Linked DNA regions of Homo sapiens: region 2 is linked to region 1. Evidence: fine-mapped expression QTL. A gene starts in region 1. The other region holds a variant in brackets. All regions are shown on one strand. Distances are between the middles of the regions.

The links.
Region 2: its variant is fine-mapped to the expression of MIPOL1 in breast (GTEx, PIP 0.92).

The regions. Positions count from the first base shown.
Region 1 is chr14:37,193,898-37,202,238 of GRCh38, forward strand. MIPOL1 (mirror-image polydactyly 1) reads left to right here and starts at 4,040. Exons shown (of 13, transcript NM_001388067.1): 1 at 4,040-4,207.
Region 2 is chr14:37,656,822-37,665,162 of GRCh38, forward strand. All of the region lies in intron 3 of TTC6 (tetratricopeptide repeat domain 6), which reads left to right. Among named protein-coding and RNA genes, the nearest start is that of TTC6, 65 kb to the left of the region's middle. The variant G/A (reference allele first, on the strand shown) is at 3,987.

The sequences.
Region 1 (8,341 bases):
ATACCGATGTAACCAATCTGTACGTTGTGCACATGTACCCTAGAACTTAAAGTGTATGAAAAAAGCCTATTAAAAAATGAATCATGATCCTTTAGACAGGTAGTAGCTAAAGGATCCTCATATCCTTTAAAAGGATTACTGTAGTCAAGCAAAGTGCTATGAGACTGACTTGAAAATTTAAAAAATAGCTTTATCCATCATATCTATGTTCATTAATCTCATGTCTAGCCCAGTCTAGAATGCTTCCTTGCATATGACTGCTGGAAAGCTACTCTAAGATGCTTCCCTAGCAATTCAAACTCATTCTATCAAAACTGAACTTACTTATTCACCAATTTCTTTAATACCATCAACACTTTCCTCTTTCTCAACTAGTTATTTACCAGATTTTGCAAACTATTTCCTACTTCTTCAAGCTACCCTTTTCCATCTATCGTGCTTTACCACATACATTTTATTATTTATTTATTTATTTATTTATTTTTTGAGACAGGGTCTAACTCTGTCACCCAGGCTAGAGTGCAGTGGTACAATCTCAGCTCACTGCAACCTCCACCTCCTGGTTCAAGTGATTCTCATGCTTCAGCTTCCTGAGTAGCTGGGATTACAGACATGTGCCACCATGCCTGGCTATTTTTTGTATTTTTAGTAGAGACGGTGGGGGGAGGTCCCACCATGTTGGATAGGGTGGTCTCCAACTCCTAGCCTCAAGTGATCCACCCACCTCAGCCTCCCAAAGTGCTGGGGTTACAGGCATGAGCCACAGAGCCCAGCCTTTTTATCGTTTTTCAATTAGATTAACTAGTCTTGCAAACTTGAGAATTTTGATTCTGAAACGTATTTCTAAATTGATGAATGAAAGTGTAAATCTAATCTCATCACTCCTGTTTTAACTTTCAAAATTCATTGACTATAGAATCAAGTCCAAGGTACTTAATTAGGAGATCATTTATATTGCCTGGCATGGTGACTCATGCATGTAATCCGAGCACTTTGGGAGGCCAAAGTGGGAGGACTGCTTGAGGCCAGGACTTTGATACCAGCCCCAGCAACATAGTGAGTCCCCAACTCTATTTTTAAAAAAGACCTTTCATAATCTCTCCAACTTCATTTCCCACCACTTTCCATGTTAAATTTTATACTGTGATATTAAATTGCTTATAGCTCCTTACAGTATCTCACTCCCATATTGATTCCTTTATAAGGAATTCTGTTTTCTCTGCACCTCCACCCTCACCTCTTCACCTTGCTAAGTCTTATTCATACTACAGGAGGCATTATCTCCTTCAGATTTTCCTGACTCTGTCTTCCTCATCCCCTGAACTCCCCTCTCCCAAAGCCATTTCTCAGTTTACACAGTGTGATGGTTAATTTTGTCAACTTGGCTGGGCCATGGTGCACAGATATTTGGTGAAACGTTATCCTGGATGCTTCTGTGAAGGTGTTTTTTTGATGAGATTACCATTTAAATCACCAGACTTTGAATACAACAGATTACATTCCATGTATGTCCAACTACAATTCTTTTCTGAGGCTTGCCCGCCTCTTCCCTCAGATTTTGGACTCACTAAAAGTCCACAACTGCATGAGCCATTTCCTTACAATAAATCACTGTCCCTCTCTCTATGTAGTCTCTGTGTATACACACATATCCTGTTTGTTCTGTTTCTCTGGAGAACCCTGATTAATACATATGGTATTCTCAGCTACTTGTGTGCCTAATTGTTATTCATTATTTTATTTGCAGAACTGATCAGTGTGTGACACACTGCAGAAGCCTAATATTTATAGACTTGAGAATATTAATGATCTGACATTAACAGACTTGATAATATTAATAATATGACATTCTTTTTCTCCCTGTAACGAAAGAGTGGTTCATTTTCTTCTTCTCATCTTCATCCATATTTCTGTAAAAGTCCAGCTTGTATGAGGTATGAGGACATAGACAATATCTTTGATAATCATTTTGAGAAAAGAAAAAAGCTCTAATTTATCTCTTTCATTTCTTATAGACAGGCAACTGTTAGAACAATAGAAAATGAAGAAATGGATATGTTGGTTATGGTGGTGGTGGAGGGGAGTAGGGGAAAACTTACCTGTTGTGGTATCAAAAGTTTAGGGAAAGAACATTAATGAGTTACTTCAGGTATGTTAGGGAAAAAGGAAAAAGAATAGGGAGAATTAGTCCTAATGTTTGAACTCACTGCATAAAACAGAGAGAGAGAGAGAGAAAATCAGCTTACTAAAAGGAAAGAAAATATGAGGTTTCTCTTTATGCCAGAGACTGTAAGCACCCAGATAATGGGCTTTAAAAAAAGGAGGAAATGAACTTTACTCAATGAAAAATATTATAATTTTTCTCTAAATTTATTCTACTAATTCATTACATGGTTTGAATGTTCTCATTGTGGTAGTCACTATCCTGTTTTATTTATTATTTCCTAGCCAGGAAAATCAACTTTTTCCTTTGTTTTACACATAATTTGATTTGGCCCTAAGCCTTTGCACAAGCTATATACTTCCTGATTGGAGTATTTGCTCTGATAAACTGTACACTCTTTGTTTTTGTCTCATAGATTTTTATGGTACTTTATGTTCATAAATATGATTCAAATCCTGACTGAAGTAAAGCAAAAAAGAAAAAAGCATTTCAAAGCTGAATCTGTAACAAACTTCTTGAGAACACTGTTCATTACAGCATACATAACGAAAATTTGGTGAATATTATAACCTCTGTTGTTCCAAGTTAATCTACGTCCAACTTTTCCATTTTGTTAGTTTTCACAGCGTCATGCTCTGTCCCCCAGGCTGGGGTGCAGTGGCGCCAGCCATCGTAGCTTATTTCAGTCTCCACCTCTGGGGCTCAAGCGATTCTCCCACCTCATCCTCCCTAGTAGCTGGGACTACGGGTATGCACCATCATGCCCAGCTAATTTTTTTGATTTTTAATAAAGTCAAGGTCTCGCCATGTTGTCCAGGCTGGTCTCGAACTCCTGGGCTCAAGCGATCCCACTGCCTCAGCCTTCCAAAGTGTTGGGACTACAGGCGTAAGCCACCGCGCCCGGCCTTTTTCAGTTTTTTAAACTCTCTTTTGTACACTTACTAAAGGATAAGTTCCTTTCATTAACTTTAACCACAAATTTAGGAACCCGTCAGCACCTCATATTATGCCTATTCTCTGGGGTGTATTAAAAAATATTATTGCTTATTACTCAGCACCCAGAAGAGTACCTGGCACATGGTATGTGGTCACTAAGTATTTGGTGTCTGAAGGAATCATGAGTAACAGGAGTTAAAGTGACATTTATAAAACCAATTCTGAACTATGGAACAAAAAACCCAAATTTAAATTACTAGCAGTTAATTATACCATTCTTAGTTCACGGAGGTAGGCCAATTGAAAACTTTGGACATTTTTAAATTCTGTAAGGTTTAACATTTTTTCTTAGAGGATTCACATATCGTAATCTCATCCAGCACTTCAGTCAAAAAAAAAAAAAAAAAAAAAAGTCACCAGCTCCAAGGTTTTAGTGTGAAACGTTCTTTGGCCAGGATCTAGATAGTACTTTTGCTCACTCAACCGGAGCCCGATCTGGTGCCATTTTCACTTGACCGCCGCTTCGAAACACGTCCCTCCCACCTCTCATCCCAAACCACACACAAAGAAGGAAAGCACAATTTCGACAGGTCTTGGGAAAACTCGACGAGGCCAAGTATGAGGCCACAAGACACCGTTTTTAGTTCCGCGTTCTCCCTCTTCTAATCCTATTAGGTTTTGTCCAGACAACGTTTTGCTCTTTCAGAAGAGAAAGAGCGTTCTGCGCTCGTCGTCTTGGATTCGACAACCATAAGCATCCCGTTAGGGCAACCACCGCAGCAGACTAAGTTCGACTACTTTCTCTCCAAACTCCTCCCGGGCCTTCTTCCCAAGCTCTCTCTTTCTCCTGGAGGCCCCGCCTCGCGGCCCGGCAGCGCGGCACGCGCATGCCCGGTGCTCGCCGCTTGCGCTCTCCCCTGCGGCGCGCCGCCGCCCCGTAGGCCCCACGCGCCGCCCCGCTCCTCCGCCGGATCGTCTGTGGGTGAGTCTCGAGCCAGGAGGCTCTGAGCCAGTGGCGATTGGCTGACGCGGTGGCTGCGCACTCGGCCTGAGAAACTCGGCAAGCGCGCAGTGTCGACTCCCCGGTCTATGCCAGGCGCATCTCAGGTAAACGGTTGGGCAGGGAGGTTTGGGCGACGGAGAATGATAGTGGTGGGCACAGATCAGCCCTGGAGTTTTCGGCCGCAGACTTTTCCTTGGAGAAGGAGAAGGGGCCCCGCGGAATCTGTACTTAGTGAATGCTGACCCCGCGTGGCCGGGAGTGATGGGGCTCTCTCGAAGGTCAGTGTCGTGGGGTCCTCAGGTGGCAGACAGCTCTTTCTGGGTATGGTTTTGGTATTGTCTCCAGTTTCCTAATACTGGACCTGAGCAGCTGAGCATTTATTCAAGGGTGTATTTTTTTTGTTTTTTTCCCCTTAAGTCGCGGTTAGTCAGAAGGTTCCAGTCCTCGCTCAACCTCTGATCGACTCTGTGCCCATGAGAGAGTCGTTTTATATTTCATTTCTCACACGTGGAAGTGTGGGCGAAGAATGAGGGGCTTCTTTAAGCGCGCTAAGCCATGCTGTAAAAAGATACTGTTAGAATTTTTTTTTTTCTTTTTTGATTCACAATGTCCCTGGACCTGGTGCAACGTTTGGGAAGCATTTTAAGCTCTATGGATGGAGGGAACAAGACAGCCGCATTATTAGACAAGGATGGTAGAAAGGAACAACTTTCCACAAACACACGCGTTTGGAAAAGCTCCTTTGAGCATTTTATGCAGGTTAAATCACAGTGGTAGTAGATAGAAATAAGCCAAAACAAAGGGCCAAACAAAACTACATTTCAAGGAGGTGTTCTTTTCTTCCCCAGATAACTTGAATATACTATCACAAATTATTGGCGTTTCAAAGTTTTTCCTTGTGATCTGGTATGGAGTTCATCTAAAATGACAATTACATAATCATTCTATGCAATCGTATGCCAATAAAATTAATTAAAACAGTTTAATTTTTAATGTGAGGAATAGGAATCAAGACATGTCATTGATGGGAGGTAATGATGGCAATCAGCAAAATGAATGGGAGATGTATACAATTTTCCTTCAAAGGAGTAGAGTTTATAGAGATATTTTTATTGCGTTAATATTTAAAGTATAAAGACATACAGAAAAGTGCATGAATCGTAAGTGTACAGCTCGGTGAATTTTCACAAAGTGTAAATACCCATGTATCCAGTATCTAGATCAGGAAAGAGCATTATTGCATCCCGGAAGCCCCACTTCATGGTTCCAAAGGTAATCATTATCTGGACTTCCAACATTATCAATGAATTTCACCTATTATTTACTTTATATAAATGGAGTAATATGGTATTTAGTCCTTAGTTTCTGATTTTTGCTCAATATTTTATTTGTGAGATTTATTCAAGTTATGTAGCAGTTTGTTATTCTCATGCTGTATGTATAGTATTTCTAGTTTTTGGCTATTACCAATAGGGCTGCTATAAAGATTTTTAGAAATATTTTGATGAAATTATGTATACTTTTTTTTTTCTTCTTTTTTTTGAGATGGAGTCTCGCTCTGCCGCCAAGGCTGGAGTGCAGTGGCGCGATCTCGGCTTACTGCAACCTCCGCCTCCCGGGATCAAGCAATTCTCCTGTCTCAGCCTCCCGAGTAGCTGGGACTACAGGTGCCTACCACCACGCCTGGCTAAGTTTTGTATTTTTAGTAAAGACGGGGTTTCACCTTGTTGGTCAGGCTGGTCTCAAACTCCTGACCTCAGCTGATCCACCTGCCTCAGCATCCCAGAGTGCTGGGATTACAGGTGTGAACCATCGCGCCTGGCCATATGTACATTTTTATTGCGTATATGCCTACTAGAAAATTACTGTGTTACAGGATAGGCAGATGTGTGTTTGTGGTATACACTACTGAAAAGTTTTTCATATTGTGTCAATTTATACTTCAGTGGCAGCTTGAGAATTCTGGTTCCTCCAAATGCTTGCAACATTTCACACTGTCTTTTTCATTTTAGCCATTCTAGTAGGAATATAGTGACATAACATTGGGGTTTTCCCATAATTTCCCTAATGACTGATGGTATTGAACACATATTCATGTGTTTACTGGCATTTGGATATCCTCTATTTCTGTAAGGGACCAGACAATAAGTGTAGGCAGCCCTCGCTTTGTAGAGTTTCAGCTAACCAAGTAATGTGTGAAGCTCGGACTACCTGTATTTTAGGTTGTACAGGCTGTACAGTCTCTGTTACACATTCTTTTCTGTTTTTTTCCTCTTTACTTTGTTCCCAACCCTTTAAATATGTAAAAACAATTCTTAGCTCATGGGTTATACAAAAACAGTTGTTAAAAGATAACTTTAGGCACATGGAAATTTTAGAGTTTATATGAGCATTCAGCAATTTCATAAATTGGGTATCACCAGACCACAAGTTATTCAAGACTCCACCAAGAGGGTGTGAGGGGAAAACTTTTATAAGGTGTTTATGGAAACAGAAAATATTTGATTGGTAACAGTGGAATGTCTCTAGTTAGAAGTTGTTTGGTGGTTTCTGATTGATTAAACTCAAGTTTAGTTTTACTGTTTACATTGAGTTGGGTTTTGGTTTGTTTACATAGGAACCCAAAGTGCTGGAGCTGTCTCAACCTAATGGTTTCCCAGTTAGTTTTTTTTTTTTTTTTTTTTTTTAACACAGTCCTCTGGCTGGATTTGAGTTGTGGGCCATAGCGTACTAACCCCTGCTCTATTGAAAAATGTTTGTTCAATTTTTTGCCAATTGGTTGGATGTGAAATCAGTAACTGAGATGGGCTATATTAGAGAAATATAGATCCATAATACTATATCTATCTATGTGTGTGTGTGTGTGTGTGTGTGTGTGTGTGTGTGTGTGTGTGTGTGTATTTTTTTTTTTTTTTTTTTTGAGACAAGGTGTACCTCTGTCACCCAGGCTGGAGTGCAGTGGGGTGATCTCGGTTCACTGCAGCCTCTGCCTCCTGGGCTGAAGTGATCCTCTCACCTCGGCTTCCCAAGTAGCTAGGGTTACAGGCACACACCAACATGCCCAGGCTAATTTTAATATTTTTTTGTGGAGATGGGGTTTTGCCATGTTGCCCAGGCTGGTTTTAAACTCCTGAGCTCAAGTGATCCTCCTTCCCCAGCCTCCCTAAATGCTGGGATTACAGGCACAAGCCACCACACCTGGCCAGTATTGTAAAGCAGCATGTGTTATAGTGTTTTGGTGTTGGATTTCAGATCTCTAAACATACTTTATTTGGTTTACCAGTTTTACCTTAAGACTAATTAGAGGCCAGTTTGATTCTTGTCTGAATTGTTTTTACTTCTCCCACTTTCTTCTCACCCTGTAAATCTGAAGAACAAAAGACAGGTAAGAAGTGAGAAAAGAAAGAAGAGACAGTCTTTCTTTGATATTATTTAAAAGGCTAGGAAAGAAAAGGATGAATGTCTAGACAGTTCTGGATATTTTGAGTAAAAATATGTAAAAATATATAATATAGTTATTGTAATATTTTAAGGTGCATTTTGTCCTTTGAGCTGTTCCATCTTGGGTTTTCTGACATTTTTATCTAGTGATTGAGTACACTCATGATATAGGACGTAATAGCCATTGACTTGGGCCGTGAAGCTCAACTGTGACACCTCTTCCCAGGATGGAGGCCCTTTCTTCCTTAAATGTCTCTTTGGGCTGCCCAGTTCATCTTTTACTCTTGGCCCCCTGCCTTTTGCTCAGTATTGCCCAAAATTTTACTTTAATACCATTCAGCCCACCATCCATGTTAACATTTTTAGCTAACACTTTCTAGGTATTTGTTGTTGTTCTTGTTGTTGCTTTTAGAAACAGGATCTTGCTCTGTCACTCAGGCTGGAGTACAGTGGTGCAATCATAGCTCACTGTAACCTTGACCTGGGGTCAAGCTGTCTTCCCTGCTGCAACCTCCCAAGTAGATAGGACTGCAGGTGCTCAACATCACACCTAGCTATTTTGTTTTCTGTTTTTGTTGAGACAGAGTCTACCTTTGTTGTCCGGTCTAGTATCCAACCCCTGGCCTCAGGTCCTCCTGCCTCGACCTCCCAAAGTGCCAGGATTACAGGCATTAGCCACTGCACCAGCCCATTTCTTGTTTTTAAGTAATTTATAGAAGTGAATTTAGTGCACATTTAGATATATGCTAATACTAATGAAGGGTGTGAGGGTAATTTCATCAGTGTGATCCTTCTTT
Region 2 (8,341 bases), 460 kb after region 1:
ACCTTCTTGAAATCTGCAAGGAACTAGGGGTGGTTGATCCTAAAAGCACATTCTAGTAGCCTAAATGTATAACAACCTAAATGCCAAATAGAAGTACAAGTAATGTGGCCAGGAGTGGTGGCTCACGCCTGTAATCCTGGCATTTTGGGAGGCCGAGGCGGGTGGATCACCTGAGGTCAGGCGTTCTAGACCAGCCTGGCCAACATGGCGAAACCCCGTCTCTATTAAAAATACTAAAAAATTAGCCAGGCGTAGTGGCGCATACCGGTAGCCCCAGCTACTCGGCAGGCTGAGGCAGGAGAACCGCTTGAATCCGGGAGGCGGAGGTTGCAGTGAGTCGCGATTGCGCAGTTGTACTCCAGCCTGGGCAACATGAGCGAAACTCTGTCTCAAAAAAAAAAAAAAAAAAAAAAAAAAATACAAGTAATGTGTTGTGGGATCAATAAATTCTGAGTGAGTGTTTAAGGAGTGGCATTTTAATAAAAAATAGTTTTCAAAAGGTGTGGAAGTTTTGGAAGCTTTCTATTTAAAAAAAAAAAAAAAAGACCATTTCCATCAAATAAAACAAAAAAATCTTTCTTATCTTCCTGTGCTGCGTGGGGAACTACCCAGGAGAGTGTTTGGGAAGTGAATTCCTGAGTGGGAGAAAAGCATAAACGAGGACGCCGAGCCAAGAAAGGGCCTGGTGTCTCTGGGGGACTGAATATCCTAATGTGAATGGTGTGAACAATCTACAAAGAAAAATGAAAAGCTTATTTGTTGGCTTTATGAATTGAAAATTATTTAATACACTATTATTAAGTAGATTTCTTTCAAAGATGATAATGTAGTAAAATAGTATTTTAATAAAAAATCAAGTTAAAGTAGAGAGGAAGAGCAGAGTGGTTGCTTAATTCTTAGGCCTAAATTCTAAATGAAATTAATTTTGGAGGAAGATGCCAATTTATCTTGTTTTTCAAACAACCTGGTATGAAACAGAGTGATAAAATCAGCATAGCCCATGTAACTCTATTACATAAAGGAGAGAGTTTGATTTTTTTTGTATGTACCAACCGTTAAAAACATTTTTGTCTGACCTTGCAGGATGAAAAATTCATTCCTTTGGTTCATTTTAGAGATGCATTTGTTCCAAAGAGAGGTACTTTTTTATTATTTGTCATTTACATCAAGGATGGCCAGACTTTTTCTGTAAAGAGCTAAATAGTAAATAGTTTAAGCTTTGTTGAACCAGGAGACAAAATCAAGGATAGTATTTAGGCACTTATATAACAAGAGAGAAAATAATTTCCACAAATTTTTAATTGATGAAATTCAAAACATTATTAATGGATATGGAAATTTAAATTTCATGTAATTATTCTCACTTATGAAATATTCTTCTTTTTAAAAAACACCATTAAAATATAAAAGAACTGTTCTTAGCTTATAGGCCAAACAAAAACAGGTGGTGAGCCAGATTTGGTCTGTGGGCCCTTCCTTTGCCAACACTTATTTACATTACACTGTGAAAGAAAGAGTCTGTTAGTCATTTTATGGGATCAGGGTTTTCTCTTTGGAACAAAGGAGAGACCATGAGGACATTGGCCATTGTTACTTGAAAGTGTGTGTGAGGTGGTGGGGGCCTGGTGTGGGCATTTTGGGTTTGTCTGATCTTTTGGTTTTCTACTTTTAGAAAAGCCCTGGGTAGCTGGGAGCTGAATAATGTACACACATGGATGTAGTGTATGGAATGACAGACAGTGGAGACTTGGCAGGGTGAGAGGGTTGGCAGGAAATGGAGGATAAGAAATTACTTAATGAGTACATTGGGTTATTTGGGTGAAAGATACCTTAAAAGCCTTGACTTCTACACAATCTATGCACATAGCAAAAACTACATTTACACACCATACATTTAAACAAGAAAGAAAAGAAAAGTCCTGGGTAAGTAAAATGTCTGAAAAAGCCTTTAAAAATTTTTTTATTTTAGGTTCAGGGGTGCGTATGCAGGTTCATTATACAGATAAACTCACGTCATGGGGATTTGTTGTACAGATTATTTCATCACCCAGGTACTAAGCCTAGTACTCAATAGTTATTTTTTTCTGCTCCTCTCCCTCCTCCCACCCTTCACCCTCAAGTAGGCCCCAGTATCTGTTGCTCCCTTGTGTCCATGAGTTCCTTCCTTTGTGTAATTTAGCTCCAACTTACAAGTGAGAATATGTGGTATTTGTTTTTCTGTTCCTGTATTCGTTTGCTAAGGATAATGGCCTCCAGCTCCATCCATGCTCCCACAAAAGACATGATCTTATTATTTTTTTTTATGGCTGCATAGTATTTCATGGTATATACGTACCACATTTTCTTTATTCACTCTACCATTGATGGACATTTAGGTTGATTCCATGTATTTGCTATTGTTAATAGTGCTGTAATGGACATTTGTGTGCATGTATCTTCATGGTAGAATGATTTATATTCCTCTGGGTATGTAACAACCTAAATGGGATTGCTGGGTTGAATGGTAGTTCTGTTTTTAGCTCTTTGAGGAATTGCCACACTGCTTTCCACAATAGTTGAACTAATTTACACTCCTGCCAACAGTGTATATGTGTTCCTTTTTCTCCACAACCTCTCCAGCATCTGTTATTTTTTCGACTTTTTTAATAATAGCCATTCTGACTGATATGAGATGGTATCTCGTTGTCGTTTTATTTTATTTTATTTTATTTTATTTTAATTTTGAGATGGAGTTTCACTCTTGTTGCCCAGGCTGGAGTGCAATGGCACAATCTTGGCTCACTGCAACCTCCCAGGTTCAAGCGATTCTCCTGCCCAGCCTCCCGAACAACTGGGATTACAGGCACATGCTACCATGTCCAGCTAATTTTTGTATTTTTAGTAGATACAGGGTTTCTCCATGTGGGTCAGGCTGGTCTCGAACTCCTGACCTCAGGTGATCCGCCCACCTTGGCCTCCCAAAGTGTTGGGATTACGGATGTGACCCACCGCGCTTGGCCTTCGTTGTGGTTTTGATTTGCGTTTCTCTAATGGTTAGTAAATTTTTTTTCATAAGCTCATTGGCTGCATCTGTGTCTTCTTTTGAGAAGTGTCTGTTCATGTCATTTGCCCACTTTTTAATAGAGCCGTTTGCTTTTTCTTGGAAATTTGTTTAAGTTCCTTATAGATGCTACATATTAGACCTTTGCCAGATGCATAGTTTGCAAAAATTTTCTCTCATTCGGTAGGTTGTCTGTTCACTCTGTTTATAATTTCCTTTGCTGTGTAGAAGCTCTTAGGTTTAATTAGATCTTATTTGTCAATTTTTGTTTTGGCTGCAATTACTTTTGGCATTGTCATCATGAAATCTTTGGCCGTTCCTATGTCTAGGATGGTATTGCCTAGGTTGTCTTCCAGGGTTTTTTTTTTAATTTTAATTTTTAGTTCTGGGATACGTGTGCAGGATGTGCAGGTTTGTTATGTAGGTAAACGTGTGCCACAGTGGTTTGCTGCACCTGTCAACCCATCACTTAGGTATTAAGCCCATCATGCATTAGTTATTTTTCCTAATGCTCTCCCCCACACCTCACCCCTGGACAGGCCCCAGTGTGTGTTGTTCCCCTCTCTGTGTCCATGTGTTCTTATTGTTCAGCTTCCACTTACAACTGAGAATATGTGGTATATTTGGTTTTCTATTACTGCGTTAGTTTGCTGAGGATAATGGCTTCCAGCCTGGCTGCGTAGTATTCCATGGTGTATATGTACCACATTTTCTTTATCCAGTCCATCACTGATGAGCATTTAGATTGATTCCATGTCTTTGCTATTGTGGACAGTGCTGCAGTGAACATTTGTGTGCATGTACCTTTGTAATAGAATGATTTATATTGCTTTGGGTATATACCTCATAGTGGGATTGCTGGGTCAAATGGTATTTCTGGTTCTAGATCTTTGAGGAATTGCCACACTGTTCAATGGTTGAACTAATTTACACTCCCACCAATGGT[G/A]TAAAACGTTCCCATTTCTCCACAGCTGTGCCAGAATCTGTTGTTTCTTGACTTTTTAATACTGGCCGTTCTGACTGGCATGAGATGGTATCTTATTGTGGTTTTGATTTGCATTTCTCTAATGATCAGTGATGTTGAGCCTTTTTCATATGTTTGCTGGCTACATGAATGTCTTCTTTTAAGAAATGTCTGTTCATGTCCTTTTCCCACTTTTTAATAGGGTTGTTTGTTTTTTTCTTGTAAATTTGTTTGAGTTCCTTTGTAGATTCTGGATATTAAACCTTTGTTGGATAGGTAGATTGCAGAAATTTTCTCCCACTCTGTAGGTTGCCTGTTCACTCTGATGACAGTTTCTTTTGCTGTGCATAAGCTCTTTAGTTTAATTAGATCCCGTTTGTCAATTTTTGCTTTTGTTGCAATTGCTTTTCATGTCTTTGCCATACAATCTTTGCCCATGCCTATGTCCTGAATGGTATTGCCTAGATTCTCTTCTAGGATCTTTATAGTTTGGGATTTTACATTTAAATCTTTAATCCATCCAAGGTTTGAGGAAGGGGTCCAGTTTCAATTTTCTGCAAATGGATAGCCAGTTCTCCTAGCACCATTTATTGAATAGGGAATCCTTTTCTCATTGCTTGTTTTTGTAAGGTTTGTTGAAGATTAGATGCTTGTAGCTGTACTATCTTAATTCTGAGTTCTCTATTCTGTTCCATTGGTCTATGTGTCTGTTTTTGTACCAGTACCATGCTGTTTTGGTTATTGCAGCCTTATAGTATAGTTTGAAGTCTGGTAGCAAGATGCCTCCAGCTTTGTTCTTTTCTCTTAGAATTGTCTTGGCTATATGGGCTCTTTTTTGGTTCCATATGAACTTTAAAATAGTTTTTTTCTAATTCTGTGAAGAATTTCAATGGTAGTTTAATGGGAATAGCATTAAATCTATAAATTACTTTGGGCAGTATGACCATTTTCACGATATTGATTCTTCTTATGAGCATGGAATATTTTTCCATTTGCTTGTGTCCTCTCTGGTTTCCTTAAGCAGTGGTTTGTAGTTCTCCTTGAAGAGGCCCTTCACTTCCCTTGTTAGCTGTATTCCTAGGTATTTTATTCTCTTTGTAGCAATTGTGAATGGGAGTTCATTCATGATTTGGCTCTCCACTTGTGTGTTGTTGGTGTACAGGAATGCTAGCAATTTTTGCGCACTGATTTTGCTGAAGTTGCTTATCGGCTTAAGAAGCTTTTGGGCTTAGAAGATGGGGTTTTCTAGATATAGGATCATGTCATCTGCAAACAAAGACAATTTGACATCCTCCCTTCCTATTTAAATATGCTTTATTTTGTTCTTTTGCCTGATTGCCCTGGCCAGAACTTCCAATACTATGTTAAATAGGAGTGGTGAGAGAGGGCATCCTTGTCTTGTGCCAGTTTTCAAAGGAAATGCTCCCAGCTTTGCCCATTCAGTATGATATTGGCTGTGGGTTTATCATAAATGGCTTTTATTATTTTGAGATATGTTCCTTCAATACTTTGTTTATTGAGAGTTTTAAACATGAAGATATGTTGACTTTTATTTAAGGCCTTTTCTGCGTCTATTGAGATAATCACATGGTTTTTGTCTTTAGATCTGTTTATATGATGAATTACGTTTATTGATTTGCGTATGTTGAACCAGCCTTGCATCCTGGGACTGAAGCCAACTTGATCGTGGTCTTCTAGGGTTTTTATAGTTTTGGATTTTACATTTAAGTCTTTACTCTGTCTTGAATTGATTTTTGTATATGGTGAAAGGAAGGGGTCCAGCTTCAGTCTTCTCCATATGGCTAGCCAGTTCTCCCAGCACCATTTATTGAATAGGGAGTCCTTTCCCCATCGCTTCTTGTTGTTAGCTTTGTTGAAGATCAGATGGTTGTAGGTGTGTGGCCATATTTCTGGGCTCTCTATTCTGTTTCATTAGTCTATGTGCCTGTTTTTGTATCAGTACTATGCAGTTTTGTTTACTGTAGCCCTGTAGTATAGTTTGAAGTTGGGTAGCAACTTGCTTAGGATTGCCTTGGCTATTTGGGCTCTTTTTTGGTTCCGTGTGGATTTTAAAATAGTTTTTCCCTAGTTCTGTGAAGAATGTCATTAATAGTTTGATAGTCATACCATTGAATCTGCAAATTGTTTTGGGCAGTATGGCCATTTTAATGATATTGATTTTTTTTTTATCCATGAGCATGGAATGTTTTTCCGTTTGTTTTTGTCATCTCTGATTTCTTTGAGCAATGTTTTGTAATTCTCATTGTAGAGCTCTTTCACCTCCCTGGTTAGCTGTATTCCTGTATTCCTAGGCATTTTATTTTTTTTGTGGTAACGGTGAATGGGATTGCATTCCTGGCTTATTTCTTGGCATGACTGTTGTTGGTGATTTTTGTACATTCCTGGTGAATTTTGTGCGTTGATTGTGTATCCTGAAACTTTGCTGAAGTTGTCAGCTGAAGGAGCTTTTGGATTGAGATTATGGGTTTTTCTAGATATACTGAAAAAGTCTTTATTTCACCTTCATTTTTGAAATGTATACAAAATTAAATGACTGTGGAAACTCAAATGATGTTTTTGAGAATATATCTGTGCTTTCACTCTAAAATTTGGGTCTTTTGCCTTACAAAAATGTAATCAATCATTGTATTGCACAGTTACATTTTTTTAAACATTATTTATTATGATAAGTTATCAAGATTTGTGAGTTAATTTGAAGTGTTCATCCCCAATTATCCTACTCATACTATCAAATTCAAACTTTTTTACCTTATTAGTTATGCCAGTTACAAAGATTTTGAGAAAATATTGGTGTTGTGTCACAGTTGGCTGTCTTTGAAAAATCAAACACTGCTATGATGAAAGTTAGTATGAGGTTCATGTGATGAGGAGGTCATGTTCCCAAATCAGCACTTACTTTAAAAAACCCTGTTGTCTCAGACCAAAAGCTTCTTACATTGATAAGCAACTTCAGCAAATTCTCAGGACACAAAATCAGTGTGCAAAAGTTGCTAGCATTCTTGTACACCAACAACAGGCAAGCAGAGAGCCAAATAATGAATGAACTCCCATTCACAATTGCTACAGAAAGAATAAATACCTAGGACTATAGCTAATAAGGGAAGTGAAGGACCTCTTCAAGGAGAACTATAAACCACTGCTCAAAGAAATCAGAGATGACCCAAACAAATGGAGAAACATTTCTTGCTCATGGATAGGAAGAATCAATATTGTGAAAATGGCCATACTGCCCAAAGTAATTTATAGATTTAATGCTATTCCCATTAAACTACCATTGACATTCTTCACAGAATTAGAAAAAGCTATTTTAAAGCTCATGTGGAACAAAAAAAGAGCCCATGTAGCCAAGGCAATCCTAAGTGAAAAGAATAAGGCTGGAGGCATCACACTGCCCAATTTCAAACTATACTAAAGGCTACAGTAACCACAACAGCATGGTACTGGTACAAGAACAGACACATAGATGAATAGAACAGAATAGAGAGCTCAGAAATGAGACGTCGCACCTACAACCATCAGATCTTTGACAAAGCTGACAACAAGAAGCAATGGAGAAAAGAATCCCTATTTAATAAATGGCACCAGGAGAAGTGGTTATCCATATGTAGAAAATTGAAACTGGACCCTTTCCTCACACCATATACAAAAATTAACTCAAGATGGATTAAAGACTTAAATGTAAAACCCCAAACTACAAAGACCCTAGAAGAAAATCTAGGCAGTATCATCAGGATAGAGGTATGGGCAAAGATTTCAAGATGAAAATGCCAAAAGCAATTGCAACAAAAGCAAACATTGACAAATGGGATCTAATTAAACTAAACAGCTATTCCACAGCAAAAGAAACTATAATCAGAGTGAACAGACAACCTACAAAATTGGGGAAAATTTTTGCAATCTATCCATCTGACAAAAGTCCAATATCCAGAGCTTATCAGGAACTTAAATCTACAAGAAAAAAACAAACAACCCCATTAAAAAGTGGGTAAAGGACATGAGCAGACATTTCTCAAAAGAAGACATACTTGTGGCCAGCAAACTTATGGAAAAGAGCTCAACCTTACTGATTATTAGAGAAATGAAAATCAGAACCACAATGAGATATCATCTCATGCCAGTTAGAATGGCTATTATTAAAAAGTCAAAAAACAACAGTTGCTGGAGAGGTTGTGGAGAAAAAGCAATACTTTTACACTGTTGGTGGGAGTATAAATTAGTTCAACCATTGTGGAAGACAGTGTGGCAATTCCTCAAATAGCTTGAGGCAGAAATACCATTTGACCCAGCAATCCCATTACGGGGTATATACCCAAAAG